Homo sapiens: one gene and its partner. The protein of the gene in region 2 interacts with the protein of the main gene of each other region in a pairwise test. Each region holds a gene or a part of one and is shown on either strand. Other genes may lie near its edges.

Evidence for each region. Proteins that work in one complex are often made in the same cells at the same time.
Region 1: the proteins of ZNF35 (region 2) and CWF19L2 interact in binary tests that used the Homo sapiens proteins (3 or more experiments, as listed by UniProt).

Annotation. Positions count from the first base shown.
Region 1 is NC_000011.10:107,440,596-107,447,825, reverse strand, and holds part of CWF19L2 (CWF19-like protein 2), read left to right. Parts: intron 1-4,776; coding exon 4,777-4,887; intron 4,888-6,203; coding exon 6,204-6,323; intron 6,324-7,230.
Region 2 is NC_000003.12:44,658,651-44,661,489, forward strand, and holds the end of ZNF35 (zinc finger protein 35), read left to right. Parts: intron 1-50; coding exon 51-1,297; 3' UTR 1,298-2,141; downstream 2,142-2,839. UniProt on the Homo sapiens protein: May be involved in transcriptional regulation. Involved in cell differentiation and/or proliferation.

The DNA.
Region 1 (7,230 bases), on a different chromosome or scaffold from region 2:
TTAAATGATTTTTCTCTTGAATATGGGTCACATTTGCTTGCTTCTTTGAATGTCTAGTAACTTTTAATTGGATGCTGAACCCTATGAAACTTATATTGTGACTGCTGGATTTTGTTGACTTCTTCAGAGAGTATTGAGTTTCCTTTTGGCATACAGTTAATTACTTGTGAATTAGCTTAATCCTTTTCAAGGATTGTTTTTAAGTTTTGTTCGTATGCACCTAGAATAGCTTTACTCTAGGACTGGTTTAGCCTTTCTACTAAGGCATGACCTTTGTGGGTTCTCTGCTGATTGTCATGGATGTTCAGCGAGGTTTCTTTATTCTGGTTGGGAGGAACTAGAATGTCTTCCAGCCCTTTGTGAGCTCTGGGGATTGTTCTGCTTACAGCTCTTTGGTAATTGTTTTCTCCATGGTAATTTTTCTTTGCCTGACCTTGTGGACTCTCATCCTCAGCATGTTCAGCTTGGTCTTTCTTTAAAGACTCCAGGGGTCCTTTAAGTAGATTTCTGGCACCCTTTCTCTGTGTAACTTCCCATCTGTACTTTTGTTTCAGCCTTCACAAAGTTCAAATTCCGTTTCCTTTGCTCAGTGAGATTTTCATGTTCTGCTTGGGTTACCCCTCTATGCCACAGTCTAGAAAGTGCCTTTAGATAAAAAGCTGTAGAGATTGTAGTTTCATTTTTATTCCAATTTGTATGTATTTCTAGTTTGATGCCATTTATTTTGTCAAGGACAGAAGCAGAAGTCCTCAAGATCCCTTGAGTTTTGCTGGTAGCACTTTTCTGTCTTAGTTCCACCTTCTAGGTTTTGACCACTAGATAGAATTAGAGGTGTGGTTAATTCTGCAGGCTGCACAAGAGAAGGAGAGCCCTGAAGGCTGTGTTAGGTCAGGAGGCGTATTAAGCTTGATAGTTAATGAGTTCAAGGTAAAATGGAGATTGAAACTAAAATTAGCAAGAGAACTGAAGTCGTAGCATGGGGAGCATCAATTTTGCTGAAGTGGTAAGGTGAGTGAGTGCATAATTGTGAAAATGAGTATAGGTTGCTGCTTAAAAGTTTCTGACTAGTGCTATTGAAAGAGTAGAAAAAGACATTTCATTTAATTTCAGCTTGCATTTATCAAATGCTTATTCTTTGCCAGACACTGTTCTAGACATGGGGAATATAAAAATATATTTTTAAACCTTTGGGGAACTCATTTCCTAATTGGATAAATAGATACATAATATTAATAATATGATTTTGTAGTAGATTTTGTAGAAGAAGATGTTGGCTTTATTTTCTGTTGTTACTGAGTTTAGCATACCATCCAACATGATGCCATGGTAGTACAGGGTATTAAGAGGGATTTCATTTGCTAACTTGTTGATTAAATGATGCTTGAATTGAGACTAGATAGATTAGTAAGCATTAGGCAAATAAAGGTGTGCTTGGCATTTCATGCATAAGGAATTGCGAGAGCAGAGACATGGAAGTATGAGATAATATGAGTGTGAGTATGTGTGTATGTATGTAAATATAACTATAAGCAATTTGATAGTACTAAATTATAAAACAAGAGGAGGGGGTGAATGGAGATGAAACTGTAAGAATTAATAGGGCCTTGTAAACCAAGAGCTTTGACTTTATTCAGTAGGGAATGTATCATCTAATTGGGTTCAGCTGCATTTATTAGAAAATCTCAGAATAGCCATTGATTATACAAGATAGAAATTCATTTTTTTCTGATATGAAATAAGTCAGGTAGACAGTCTAGGGCTAGTATGGTCTTCTGGGACCTAGGCTTCTATTGTCTTGCTTTTCCATCATCCTTACAGCATTGCCTCTTAGTCCAGATAACAGGAAAGAAGATGCTCTTTTTTTTCTTAACTTGACTTCCAGAAAGTCCCATAAAATACTTTTGTTTACATCTAATTGGACACTTGATCATAAGGCTTCACTTTCTAGCATGGGAAGTACATTACTTCTCCAAATAAAATGGGATTCTGTTGGTAGGAAAGAAGAGGGATAACTAGCAGTCTTTGTAATGGGAAGCCCTAGAAGAGAAGTACGGTGGTCAGATGTTCCCTTTATATTACTCTAAATGTATTTGGGGTGAGGGGTTGGAGAAAGAAGGGGAGCAGGAAAGATGAGTCCAGGAGATTAATTAGGTCTCCTGGAATCAGTTGTTTAGGTGAGAGATAAGATCTGATCTAGGGCTACTACTTTTTTTTTTTTTTTAAGGCGGAGTTTTGCTCTTGTCCCCCAGGCTGGAGTGCAATGGCACGATCTTGGCTCACCACAACCCCCGCCTCCCGGGTTCAAGATACTCTCCTTCCTCAGCCTCTCAAGTAGGTGGGAGTACAGGCATGCGCCACCACATCTGGCTAATTTTTGTATTTTTAGTAGAGATGGGGTTTCACCATCTTGGCCAGGCTGGTCTCGAACTCCTGACCTCATGATCCACCCGCCTCGGCCTCCCAAAGTGTTGGGATTACAGGCGTGAGCCACCGCGCCCAGCCTGGGGTGCTACTTTAAGGATCAAAGAAGAGAATATTAGTTGGTATTTTGGTTGCAGGTAACAGAAACTAAATATAAATTGGATTTTGCAAAAAGGATTTATTATTAAAGTACAAAATTCTCATAAGACATATAGATGTAGGAATGCAGCTAGGCTTCAAGAATAGCTGGAATTAGAATTGTGAATGGTTTTTGCAATTTTCTTGCCATTTTTCATTTCCCCTACCCTGAGTTCTAGTTTTTAAAAAATTTTTGCTGATTTCTATTTCTCATGACAGAAATGGCCTCTCCCAATGCCTTCCCATTTCTTAGTTTTAGATAAGCCCATTTAGACCTGATTTCAGATTCCTGTGGAATGGCTCAGGTTGATGTGAATTGGGTCAGGTACCTACGTTTGAACTAATCAGTAGTGGCCAGGGATAGAGGTAGGCTCGTATGGTAATCATGTATTCACTCTATGGTATATTTAATAAATATTTTAAAAATGAAAATGGTAGGCTTGAATATGTGAGGTAACATCATCCTGAGTTTCTGACTTGGTTTAAGTGGGTGGTTGGTTGTTCCAGATAACTCAGTTCAATACTATACAAGGAGAAGTAGATTTTGTAGAAGAAGAGGATAGCTTTATCTTCTGTTCTTACTGAGTTTAGCATGCCATCCAACTGCAGTAGACAATTAGTCAGTGAAACTTTGGTTAGACAAATTTGAAAGATATCAGCACAATTTATTGTAGTTCAGGCGATCAGAATGGATTTAATGGCCCAAAGGGAATGTTTAGACATTGAAAAATGTCATGGGCAAAGAATGGAATCCCAAATAACAAGATATTTAAGGGCTAAGCAAAGGAGGAAGAGTTCATGAAGGAAATGGAGAAGAAACAGAGTGGGAGGAGAGCTGAGAGGTGTCATGGAAGCCAGGAAAGTGAGTTATCAACAGAGTTGCATTAAGCAGAGAGGTCTAGAGAGCTGAAGACTGAAACGTTTTGTTGAGTTCGGCACAGTGGAAGCCACTGGTGAGTTTGGAGAAGTTTCAGTAGATTAATGGGGACAGTAGATGTATTGTAGAGTTTTGAGAAAATGTATGAAAGTGAGAGTGTGAAGGCGGTGCATGTAGACTACTCTTTCAAGAAGTTCATCTGAGAATGGAAGCCGGAAGATTAATTCCTGCTAGAGGAGGAATATACGGGGTCAAGGAAGGTCCCCCTTCCCTCCTTAAAAAAAAAAAAAAAAGGGTGGGAAATGCTTGAAATTGTTTCTAGGCCATTAGGGATCTTTGGTTAATGCCGTGAGAGGAGAAGATAATTGATGGAGCAAGGTCCTGGAGGAACAGAAAGAGTTATCAAAATCTTTAGAGCAAGATCTGCCTTAAATAGGAGGAGTTAACTGGAAATAAGGATAGGCACAGCCATAAATGTTTTGGGCGGTGGGTAGGAGGATAAGGTGGCCCTAGTTTTCTTGATGAGGTAAAAGAAGACATCATTTGCTGAGAATATGGGAATTGGTATAAAGCTTCAGGAGGGTGTTGAAGAAGATAATGTTATCTGCAGTTTTAGATCAAGGGAAATCTCAAAATGTGAAACTTAGGGGCAAACAGCAAATTCGTTTACCTGGGTGGTGTTTCCCCTGTTCTAGTGAAGCAGAGATGTGAGTAACTACTTGACGTTGGTAGTCACTGAAGCTCTGTGCTGAAGTGAGGTCTCTACTTGGCAGTTCCCATTTTTGTTTTTTTGCCTTCTCTTGGCTTGATAATAAATGGATGAGAAAATAAAAATAATTTGGTTGTGTTTGGTGGGCTTAACTCAAACTAGTGGGTTTATATGTTTTTTCTTTAAAAAAATTTTTTTTTTTGAGACGGAGTCTCTGTGGCCCAGGTTGGAGTGCAGTGGTGTGATCTTAGCTCACTGCAACCTCTGCCTCCTGGGTACAAGCGATTCTCCTGCCTTAGCCTCCTGAGCAGCTGGGATTACAGGCATGCGCCACCACGCTTGGCTAACTTTTTTGTATTTTTAGTAGAGATGGTGTTTCACCATGTTTGCCAGGCTGGTCTTGTACTCCTGACCTCAAGTAATATGCCTGCCTCAGCCTCCCAAAGTGCTGAGATTACAGGTGTGAGCCACCACACCCAGCTCTTTAAAATTTCATTGCCATTTTGTAAAGGGGAAATACAGTGTAAGAATTTTTTTCTACGATGTTGAATTTCTACCACTTAACAGCACAGAATTTTTATATCAAAGTATGCAAATTTGACAATTTCACTTATATGCTAAATGTTCTTAGAGCTCTGAAGATGAGTGGGTTGAGGCTGTTCCATCCCAGACTCCTGACAAGGAAAAAGCCTGGAAAGTGAAAGATGAAAAGTCAGGAAAAGATGACACCCAAATTATCAAGGTAAGCAAGCCACTTGATTTTCCTTCCTTGCTTTCTTCCTTCCTTCCTTCCTTCCTCCCTCCCTCCCTCCTTCCCTCTCTATCCCTCCCTCCCTCTCTGTCCCTCTCTCCCTCCCTCCCCCTCCCTCCCTCCCTCCCTCCCTCCCTTCCTTCCTTCCTTCCTTCCTTCCTTCCTTCCTTCCTTCCTTCCTTCCTTCCTTCCTTTCTTTCTTTCTCTTTCTCTCTCTCTCTCTCTTTCTCTCTTTCATTCATTTTAGAGACAGGGTCTCACTCTGTTGCCCAGGCTGGGCCGCAGTGGCACAATCAGAGCTCTCTGCACCCTCGACCTCCCAAGCTCGAGTAATCCTCCCACCTCGACCTCCCTGGTAGCTGGGACCACAGTTGTGTGCCCACCACGCCTGGCTAATTTTTTTATTTTGTGTAGAGTTGGGGTCTCCCTATGTTGCCTAGACTGGGTCTCAAACTCCTGAGCTTGAGCAATCCTTCCACCTCAGCCTCCCAAAGTGCTAGAATTAGAGACGTGAGCCACTGCACCTGGCCTATCACTTGGTTTTAAAGAAAAAAGTATCAACTTTTGAGAATAAATGAATATGAAAATGAAAGATGATTAAAATTTCTTCAGGAGAACAATTAGACTTTGAAAACAATATACTTTAGGAATAATTTTGGCAGTACTGCTGTTTGCTGAATGTTTAGAACCCCCTTCCCCTTCTACTGTGAGAAAGTGAGTGTTCCTCTCTATTCTCGTTCCTTAGAGGCTTTCATGCTTTTGATTGTTGATAAGAAGTGGCACTTTCCCCTTATGTCCCTAAAGCCTTATACTGTATCTCTGTCTGACCCTTCTATAGTGAGTGGAGTTCCATCACAGTTTTTTTTCCCTTCACCTCATGCCTTAATTTTCTTAACAATACTTAACAGTTGAATAGTTCAAAAATTTTGGGCTATAGTTCATCTGCCTCAGGAAGAATGTAATTTGTCCACTGTTAGCCACAGGTGAAGGAAGAAAGGTGAACAGGAACTAAGTTTGATTGCTTGTTGTGTGCCAGGCTTTGGGCTGGATGCTTTAGATCTGTTATCTTGTTTACTCTTTAAAACAATCCTGAAAGGTAGGGATTTTATACCATTTTATAGAGGAGAGACTAAAGTATAGAGAGATTTAGAAGCTTGCTTCAAGTTATATAGCCATGTAGGACTTGTTTCAGGTTTGATTGCCTCCAAAGTCCCTGCTCTTATTACCAAGTGTTTATTAAATTCTAATCAGTTCAGATTGAAATGATGAGTGGATGACTGTTGATTTTATGTCTTTTTTTTTAACAGAGGGATGAGTGGATGACTGTTGATTTTATGTCTGTTAAAACTGTGTCATCATCATCACTCAAAGCTGAAAAGGAAACTATGAGGAAAATAGAGCAAGAGAAAAACCAAGCGCTTGAACAGGTAAGAGAATATTTGAAATGCTTTAACTTTCTAATTTACCTTTAATAAACTTACAAGACATTTATATAAATGCAGTTTAACTTGTAAAATACCATTTTATTTTTTATAGTATTTAATACAATTAGTGAGAACAACTATGAAATACATCAGTTTAAGAAAAATAAATTTCCTATAGGAAGTGAGTTTAAAGGTTTACTAGATTTATAAATCTAGGGCATATATAAAGTTGAGTGAATATTGAGTTTAATATCATTAAATTGAAAGTGAACTCACTCAATTTTTGTTTCAGTGTACATACTGAATTAGACACCATGAAAATACTTCCATTTCAAGACATCTAGAAATTCTGGTGGATATAATGTAAAATAAGCATGCTTATTTTATACTTTATTGTTGTCACTTTGCTAGTAAGGAAGCAATAGGAAATCTGTAGAGACCAAAAAATGAGGCAAAAGCATGAATCCAGAGAAGTAAGGAAGTGCTGAAGCTGATGACTTTCCTAGGGGCATCACACAATCCTGGTAATCTGGAATTCCAATTTATACTGTACCAGGAGCATATGTTTCTTTTCCAGTACTCAGTATCTGTAATTGTCAAACTTTATATATTTTTTTATCAGCCTAATAAATGGGTGAGAAATGGTATTTCATTGTTTTTGTTCGCATTTATCTGATTGCTACCAGAGAGGTCTTTTCATGTTTTTTGGTCATTCAGATTTCTTGTACTGGGAGCTGCTCATTTATGTTTTTTGCTTACTTTTCTACCAGGGTTGTTTGTCTTTTTCTAACTGATTTATAGAAGTTATTTATGTTTTCAATCCTTTGTCTTTTATACATTTTCAGATAGTATCTCATAATTTGTCTAGCCTCTTGTCAATTGTCCTCAGTATGCAATTCTAGCCTTTTTT
Region 2 (2,839 bases):
TTTCTAGGCCAGAGAAAGCTAACATTTGTATTTTCTGTTTCTTGGTTCAGGTGCTGAAACCAAGAACCTACAGTTACTGGTTCCAAAAACTGAGATATGTGAGGAAGCTGAAAAACCCCTCATCATATCAGAAAGAATCCAGAAAGCTGATCCTCAAGGACCTGAGTTAGGAGAAGCTTGTGAAAAGGGAAACATGTTAAAGAGGCAGAGAATAAAGAGAGAAAAGAAAGATTTCAGACAAGTGATAGTGAATGACTGTCACTTACCTGAAAGCTTCAAAGAAGAGGAAAACCAGAAATGTAAGAAATCTGGAGGAAAATATAGCCTTAATTCTGGCGCTGTTAAAAATCCAAAAACCCAGCTTGGACAAAAGCCTTTTACGTGTAGCGTGTGTGGGAAAGGATTTAGTCAGAGTGCAAACCTCGTTGTGCATCAGCGAATCCACACTGGAGAGAAACCCTTTGAATGTCATGAGTGTGGGAAGGCCTTCATTCAGAGTGCAAACCTCGTTGTGCATCAGAGAATCCACACTGGACAGAAACCTTATGTTTGCTCAAAATGTGGGAAAGCCTTCACTCAGAGTTCAAATCTGACTGTACATCAAAAAATCCACTCCTTAGAAAAAACTTTTAAGTGCAATGAATGTGAGAAAGCCTTTAGTTACAGCTCACAACTTGCTCGGCACCAGAAAGTCCACATTACGGAAAAATGCTATGAATGTAATGAATGTGGGAAAACATTTACTAGGAGCTCAAACCTCATTGTCCACCAGAGGATCCACACTGGGGAGAAGCCCTTTGCCTGTAACGACTGTGGCAAAGCCTTTACCCAGAGTGCAAATCTTATTGTACATCAGCGAAGCCATACTGGTGAGAAGCCATATGAGTGTAAAGAGTGTGGGAAAGCCTTTAGTTGTTTTTCACACCTTATTGTGCACCAGAGAATTCACACTGCAGAGAAACCTTACGACTGCAGCGAATGTGGGAAAGCCTTCAGTCAGCTCTCTTGCCTTATTGTCCACCAGAGAATTCACAGTGGAGATCTTCCTTACGTGTGTAATGAATGTGGGAAGGCCTTCACATGTAGCTCATACCTACTTATTCATCAGAGAATTCATAATGGAGAAAAACCTTACACATGTAATGAGTGTGGGAAGGCCTTCAGACAGAGGTCGAGCCTCACCGTGCACCAGAGAACCCACACTGGGGAGAAGCCCTATGAATGTGAGAAGTGTGGTGCAGCTTTCATTTCCAACTCACACCTCATGCGACACCATAGAACCCATCTTGTTGAATAACAAGTAAGGAAGAGGAAGACCTCCAGCATTGGTCATAACCTTCTGCCTCCCTAATGAGACACCTCTTTGCTGTTTTCTTCCTCCTCTATAAAAGTGAGGGCTGTGTCCTTAAAAGTTATAGTTTTCAGGAATGCAGCAGAAGACACAAGAAAAGCATTTCAGAGGCTAATTTAAAACAAAAAGTAAGCACCTAAAGGCAAGGACTTTGTTTTAACTGTACCTTAAGCGGTCATGTTCTCTGAAGTGGAATGTGGCTTTCCTAGGAATGGGTCGTACAAAGCTAAGTGGTAATGATGCTATTTGGGGAAAGGTCTTTTTTGCTTAATTTTGTTTTTTAAAACTCTGATGATTGCTTGAGCAACAGGCAGGTTATCTGCCTGGTTGAATTCTGGTTGAACCGTGTATTCTAATATTTCTGGTTAAGTGGTGACTGGGTAAGGAAACCACTTGGGGTAGCAGTTCAACAATTCACTTACGAATGTTTATAAGCTTTCCATTTCCTAGGTAATTTTTTAAAAGCCAGTCAAAACAAAAACTTTACTGAAAATGGACAGAAATAGGAAATGGACTTTTTCCTTACTGTCTATACCTCCTGAACCTTGGTATTGTAAAGATCTGGGGACCTCTGGGTCTGTTCTGACCATTCCCTAGTCTCCATGGCCAAGCACTCAAGGATTGATGGACACCACACACCAGCTATATTCATTTGCCAAGATCAACAGCTCCTTCTCCAAACAACTCAAGCCCCCAATTCCCATCGCATTCCATTTGGGTGAGATGCAACTAACAGCCCCTTCCTGGATGAAGGAGTCAAAGAATAAAGCTTGCCTAGAGGCATGCCCCAGTTGTCTCTGCTGTCATTCTGCTCAAGTCCAGCCAGGGGTCTCAGTTTGGGTTTCATTCTCACATTCTGGATGGTGTTTAGAAGAAATAGTGGAGCTCTTCTCATTCTGAGAAGACCAAAGAGGGAAAGTGATGGGAGAGGGGAGGTGGAAATAAGATTCCTAAGGTCTTAATTTGATTTTTTGAGAAATTCAGAGGTATTGGAATATGAAAAACTTTTAGAAGGATGAAGAAACTGGCCAAGGTAAGATATCTTTGTTACCATTCAGCCTTTACTCCTGGAAAAATGATTTATAAAACTATGCAATAGGTAGAGTTATGTAATAATATTGCCTTGTATTTATATAGAACTTTTATTCTTTGTTGTGTACCCTTATGTATTGATCATGATACCTGGCACGTATCTCACGCTTTCACATAGATCACCTACCTCAGTCCTTACAACACTGAAACAGGTGGTTGCCCATTTACCTGAGAATGGTCATTTAGTGCAAGGCCAAGTAACAAGTGACAGCTTATATCCAAGTCCAGGTCCTGAATCTAGATTCTCTGTTCTGCCATGCCACTTGCCAAACACCTGTAATCCCCATGCAGACCTGTAGGGGAGACAAAGAAAGGGGTGTGTAGTCCCATTTTTCAGGTGAGGAAGCTGATGTGACAGATGTTTGGAGTGTGCCTTAGGCACTGTGACCAGAAATC